Linked DNA regions of Homo sapiens: region 1 is linked to region 2. Evidence: fine-mapped expression QTL. Tissue or cell type: whole blood. Region 2 holds a variant in brackets; the other region holds the start of a gene. All regions are shown on one strand. Distances are between the middles of the regions.

Region 1 (2,622 bases), 550 kb before region 2:
GAGTCCCTCCCAAGTCTCTATCCTCCCTGAGTCTCTGCCCCCGACCAGTCGCTATCCTGCTTCCCCTAGTCTCTGCCTCATCTCTGTCCTCCTCTCTCTGGGTTTCCATCCTCTTTGAGTCTCCATCTTCCACCCTCTGAGTCTCCATCCTCCCCTCTCTGGGTCTCTATTCCCTCTCCAGTCTCCAACCTCTCCTGACTCTCCATCCTCCCCTTTCTATGAGTCTCCATCCTCCTGACTCTCCATCCTCCCGAGTGTCCATCCTCCCCTCTCTGACTCTCCATACTCCTGAGTCTCCATCTTTCCGAGTCTCCATCTTCCTCTCTCTCTGAGTCTCCATCCTCCCCCTCTCTGAGTCTCCATCTTCCCCTCTCTGACTCTCCATCCTCCCCTCTCTGAGTCTTTGCCCTGCTGTCTTCCCCTGTCTGTGTCTCTCTGTCCCTAAGTCTCTGTTGTTCTCATGGTCTTTGAGCCTTTCTCCTCTGACTGTTTCTCTCTGTCTGTCCCTCAGCCTGACCCTCTGGGCCTCTCCTGCCCTCCCTCTGCACCTTCCCCAGGACACTGATGAAGTGTGGATGGTCTCCTCACTGATTTCGGTGTCAGAGAGGCCCTGGAAGGCGGCCGTGAAGGCCTCCTCACACTCTTCAAGCTTGGGGCTCCGCATCCCAACAAACATCTGGCAGATGCGGAGGCGCTCAGAGTAGGTTGTGAAGCAGAGGAGACAGGCCCAGGCGGGCACCCTGAAGACAGCCAGGGCCAGCAGGGCAGACGGGACGGCACTGGCCAGAGCCAGCAGGGCCATCGTGTGGGTCTCAAGGCCAGGGGAGAAGCTAGTAACCTTTATGAAGTCACCACAGGGCGGGGGAAGGGCCAGTGGTCTGGGGTCAGAGGTCAGGTTTCAGTTGGTGGTCAAATGTCATGCTCTGGAGGAAGGGTATGAGGAGTCAGGGGTCAGAAGTCAGGCCAGCAATTCCCCAGGTGTGTGGTTGGGCCAGACGCCAGGCTCCCAAGAACCTCACCTGTGACCCTGGATGTCCTCACAGGTTAAAGGGTCTCAGGGACCTAGAGACTGGCAACATGGTGTGCGGTGGCCCGGTAGACCCTGGGGTGGGGGTCAGAGATGGAGATAGGCACAGAGACATTCTGAGAGCCAGAGACAGAAAGACCAAAAACGACAGAAATAGAGACACAGAGAGATATCGGGAGGGGCAGAGACCTAGAAAGCCAGAATAAGAGGGAGTCAGAGGATCCACTGTGAAAGAGACACAGAAGCCACAGAGACACAGCAGAGATGGAGACAGACAGGGAAGGAAAACAGATTTCAGGGGAAGGAGGGGATGCAGGGACAAGGACAGAAAAGAGCCCGGCTCTTCCTCCCAGGGTCCCTGGGGCAGCCCAGTGGGGCTAAGGGTCCCTGAGTGGGGCTGGGGGTCCCCGCCGGGCCCCGTCCCGTGCAGGGCGCAGCCTGGGGAAAGCTAGGAGGCCGTATAGTGATCTCCTTGGGTGTCCTCCTCAACTATACAACCTCCTACCTCAGCCCGGGGGGCGCGGCAGGTGGACAGACCCGACAGACAGACAGACAGGGACCAGGAGGACCAGGGATGAGGGGGAGGGCCGGGGAGGCCCCAGCCGCGATGGTGAGCCCCCGACACGGACCCACAGACACGAGCTTGTGTGCGGCGAAGGCCCCGCAAGGTCGGTTCTACGGGTGGGTGCCAGGACCCAGGAGTCCGGGCCCCCGGCCCCTCCTCCCCAAGGAACCCAGGAGTCCAGGCCCTCAGCCCCTTCCTCATCAGGGACCCTGGAGTCAAGGCTCTCATCCCCCTCCTCCCTAAAGAACCCAGAAGTCTAGGCCCTTCCTCACCACAGACCCAGGAATCCAGGCCTCTGGCCCTTTTCTCCCCAAATGTTCCTGGAATCCAAGGACTCAGCCCCTTCCTCCCTCAGACTCATGAGTCCAGATCCAAAGCCTCCTTCTCCCCAGAGACCCAGGAGTCCCTGCCCCCAGCCCCTCCTCCCTCCGGCCAGGCAGGCCTCCTGGGGAAGGCATGGCCTGATAGAAAACCTGGCTTCCTGGGTGCCGGCTGGGAGGGAACCTCATTTGTCTCGTAATTTGGCCCTTTGGGCACACCTGCTTCCTACCTACCCTCCTGTCAGTCTGCAGAGACTCCAGGCCCAGGGCTAAGGAGGCCAGGGGCTAGCCAACCATCAGAGCCTCCCTAGGTGCTTTCTTTCCTCTCTCCTCCCTTCTTTGGGTCATTTACAACTATGACAGCCACAATCTCCCAGCGCTGACCCCATACCAGGCCCTGAGCACCAGTCCTCTCCCTGACACCTCCCACTCCAGAGAGCGAGGTGCCCTCAGCATCCCCATTTGGCAGGTGAGGGGGCTGAGCCTCAGAGAGGGGAAGAGGCTCCCAAAGTCTGCCCAGCCCCATCTCTGTCCTCCCTCTTGAATCCAGGAGGTGTCCCCAGCCTTCTCCAGCTTCTGGACCCCGGGACCCAGCACCCACCCTCCCCACCCCTGGGCTCTGAGCCCCTCCAGCTGGGGTCTCTCCCGTGCCCAGCCCCTCCTCCTGGACTGTCTGGTTCTCGCTGCCCCTGCTCCAGGCGCACCTTCCG
Region 2 (2,758 bases):
ACAAGACATGTACATAAAAGTGTCCCCTAAAAACCAACTCAGTGATTCACACAAAATAAGCACCCTTGAAGAACTAGAACACAAAAGAACTGTCAAGTCTGTCCCTTGAAATGAAGAAAGAGATTTTATTAATTCATTCACCCTTACATTCCCCTTTCCTATTGGCCATGCCCCCGCTCCCTCCTGAAGGAGCCCCTAGCCTCACTTTAATGATAATAGTCTTCCTGCTGTTCTATGTAGTTTTATCATCGGCACATGCTGCCTTGAAAATTCTAACTTCACGTAGGTTTTCCTGAAGATGTTGTATACATAGAAAATCCCAGTCTGTTTTCTTCCATACAACTGCATTGATCTGCTCAGCCCACACTGTCCCCTAATTGTCCATAACCTAGAGATCATTTGGCTGTAACGATTGAGAGAGGAAGATGCTGGGTTTGGGCGTCCGAAGCCACTCCCCGCCCTCACCTCCAATCCCTGCATTTGCAGCTAGTATCTCATCCTGCAGACCAATCTGCCTCCTGGGCGCCTCCTCCTTGCCCAGCCACTCTCTCCCCATAAGGATATTTGCAGTATCTCAGTGGGCAGAAGTGTTACCGGATGGTGCCATGCAGTTCCAGGCTCTTGGTGTCTTAAACAAAGAATTGGATGAGACACACACAGACAGCAAAGCAAGAAGCAGCAGTTTATTAAGCACAGTATCACACTCTTGGAGAGGGAGAGCGAACTGATCTCTATGAGGTGAGATCAGCATTACTTTGGGTCTTTTTATGTTTGTTTGTTTGTTTTTTTGTTTTTCTTCGCTTCCCAAGGCTGCCAAATCTCTATCCAGTGTCTGCCTTTTTTCGGGGGGAAGGGGTGGTGGTGAGGTGGGGACGAAGTCACCCAAGCTTGAGTGCAGTGGCACAATCTTGGCTCACTGCAACCTCAACCTTTTGGGTTGAAGCGATTCTTCTGCCTCTGCCTCCCTGGTAGCTGGGACTACAGGCGCCCGCCACCATGCCTGGCTAATTTTTGTATTTTTAGTAGAGATGGGGTTTCACCAGGTTGGCCAGGCTGGTCCTGAATTCCTGACCTCAAGTGATCCGCCCACCTTGGCCTCCCAAAGTGCTGGGATTACAGGCGTGAGCCACCGCGCCTGGCCAGTGCCTGCCTTTTTGATGGTTAAGTATGTTGCTTAGTTACTTTGACCCATCCCATAATTTTAAGTACATGGATAATATGCAGTCCATATGCATGAACTTTAATGAGCTGATTATCATACAGGGTCATGTTAAGGATACTTTTTCTCTCTAATGCACATGCATAGCTCTGAAGAACTGCCCCTTACTGGTTTGGTCCAGATCCTGCTGGCCACGGGTGTCCTTGCTCACTTCTCTATCTTACTTTTTGTTTTGGCTGCTCAACTTCTGCCTCTTGCTTCTTGCTCACCCGTCCCCTCACCTTGCTTCTGCTCTCTGCTTTTACTTATTCTGCCCTTTATCCAACTTTTAATTCTCTTTGCTATGCTCCTGCCCCATTGGTCTATGCTCCTCCTGCCTCAGAAGGGCTAGACCATGGCCCATCTCTTTCCCACAGTCCCCAGTTTGCAATTAAAATCAGAAAAAAAAATGGGAAGGAGAGACTTAAGGAAGCCA[C/A]AGAATCTGTAGAAAGGAGGAACTTGTGAACCACATATGACCCAGGGGAGCTGACAAGCCCTCTACTCCCACTTCCACAGTTCGGAGAGGAAGACATCAAGGTCCACAGTGACAAGTGCTATGGTCTGAATATGTCACCTCAAAATTCATTTGTTGAAATTTGAATCCCCATGTGATAGTATTAGAAGGTATAATGATTTGGGAGGCGATTAGGCTATGAGGACTCTGGGATTAGTCTAATGGGATTAGTCCCCTCATCTGAGAGACCCAGGGGAATTTGCACAGCCCTTCCACCACATGAGAACATAAGGAAAAGGCACCATCTATGAGGAAGCAAACTGTCTCCAGACACCAAACCTGCTGGCACCTTGGTCTTGGACTTCTCAGCCTCCAGAACTGTGAGAAATGAATTTCTGTTGTTTATAAACTGGCCAGTTTATGGTATTTTGTTGTAGCAGCATGAATGGACAGAGATAGAAAGCGAATTGCCCAAATCACACAGGTCTCCTGGGCCCTGTCTCCTGCACCAATGTCTGCCCAGGAGCCACTTAATTAATCTTGTCTGCCCAGGACAGACTGGGCTGGGACAGGGGAAGCTGATGTTACTTGGAGAGTGAAAGAACTGTCAAGTCTCTCACATGAGATAAGGAAAGACATTTCATTCATTCATTCATTCATTCATTCATTCGTTCTGTATTCAGATTGTGAGCACCCGTGCTGTGCCTTGAGATTTCCAGCAAAGGGTAAGTGTTTGCCCAATCGCTCCCTCCCAGGAGGGGAAGTTGCAGCATCTCAGTGGTCAGAAGGGCTGAGCCATGGCTGACAGTGATGTCCTGCATCTGTCCCGCAGGGCTGGGTGTCCTCATCTGAGTTCTGTCTTGAGCAGGAGGGGCTCAGTCAGGCCTCTCAGCCCTGCTCCCCTGGGGGCCTCCACACCTGTAGAGCCAACACCGGCCTCAGATTAGCATCGGCCACTTCAATTCTAACTCAGGCGGGACAGGACAGCTCAGCCCCATCTGGAACTCGGGGGCCAATCCCTCGGCTTCCCTAGAAAAGAGCAGCCCTGCTCACCTGGAGTAGTAGCCCCAGGTGAGGCCACGGGTGAAGGAAAAACCAGTGCCCAT

What was found. PIP is the estimated chance that this variant, and not a neighbour inherited with it, causes the effect.
Region 1: it holds the start of SPACA6, and the variant in region 2 is fine-mapped to the expression of SPACA6 in whole blood (INTERVAL, PIP 0.96).

The regions. Positions count from the first base shown.
Region 1 is chr19:51,691,707-51,694,328 of GRCh38, reverse strand. It overlaps SPACA6 (sperm acrosome associated 6), which reads right to left and starts at 999. Exons shown (of 9, transcript NM_001316972.2): 1 at 589-999. The coding sequence starts at 802. It overlaps SPACA6-AS1 (SPACA6 antisense RNA 1), which reads left to right and starts at 873. Exons shown (of 2, transcript NR_108100.1): 1 at 873-1,695. MIR99B (microRNA 99b) reads right to left here and starts at 1,717; the gene lies at 1,648-1,717. It overlaps MIRLET7E (microRNA let-7e), which reads right to left and starts at 1,543; the gene lies at 1,465-1,543. It also overlaps MIR125A.
Region 2 is chr19:51,138,404-51,141,161 of GRCh38, reverse strand. LOC124904749 (a long non-coding RNA gene) reads left to right here and starts at 652. Exons shown (of 3, transcript XR_007067310.1): 1 at 652-738; 2 at 2,336-2,377. The variant C/A (reference allele first, on the strand shown) is at 1,635.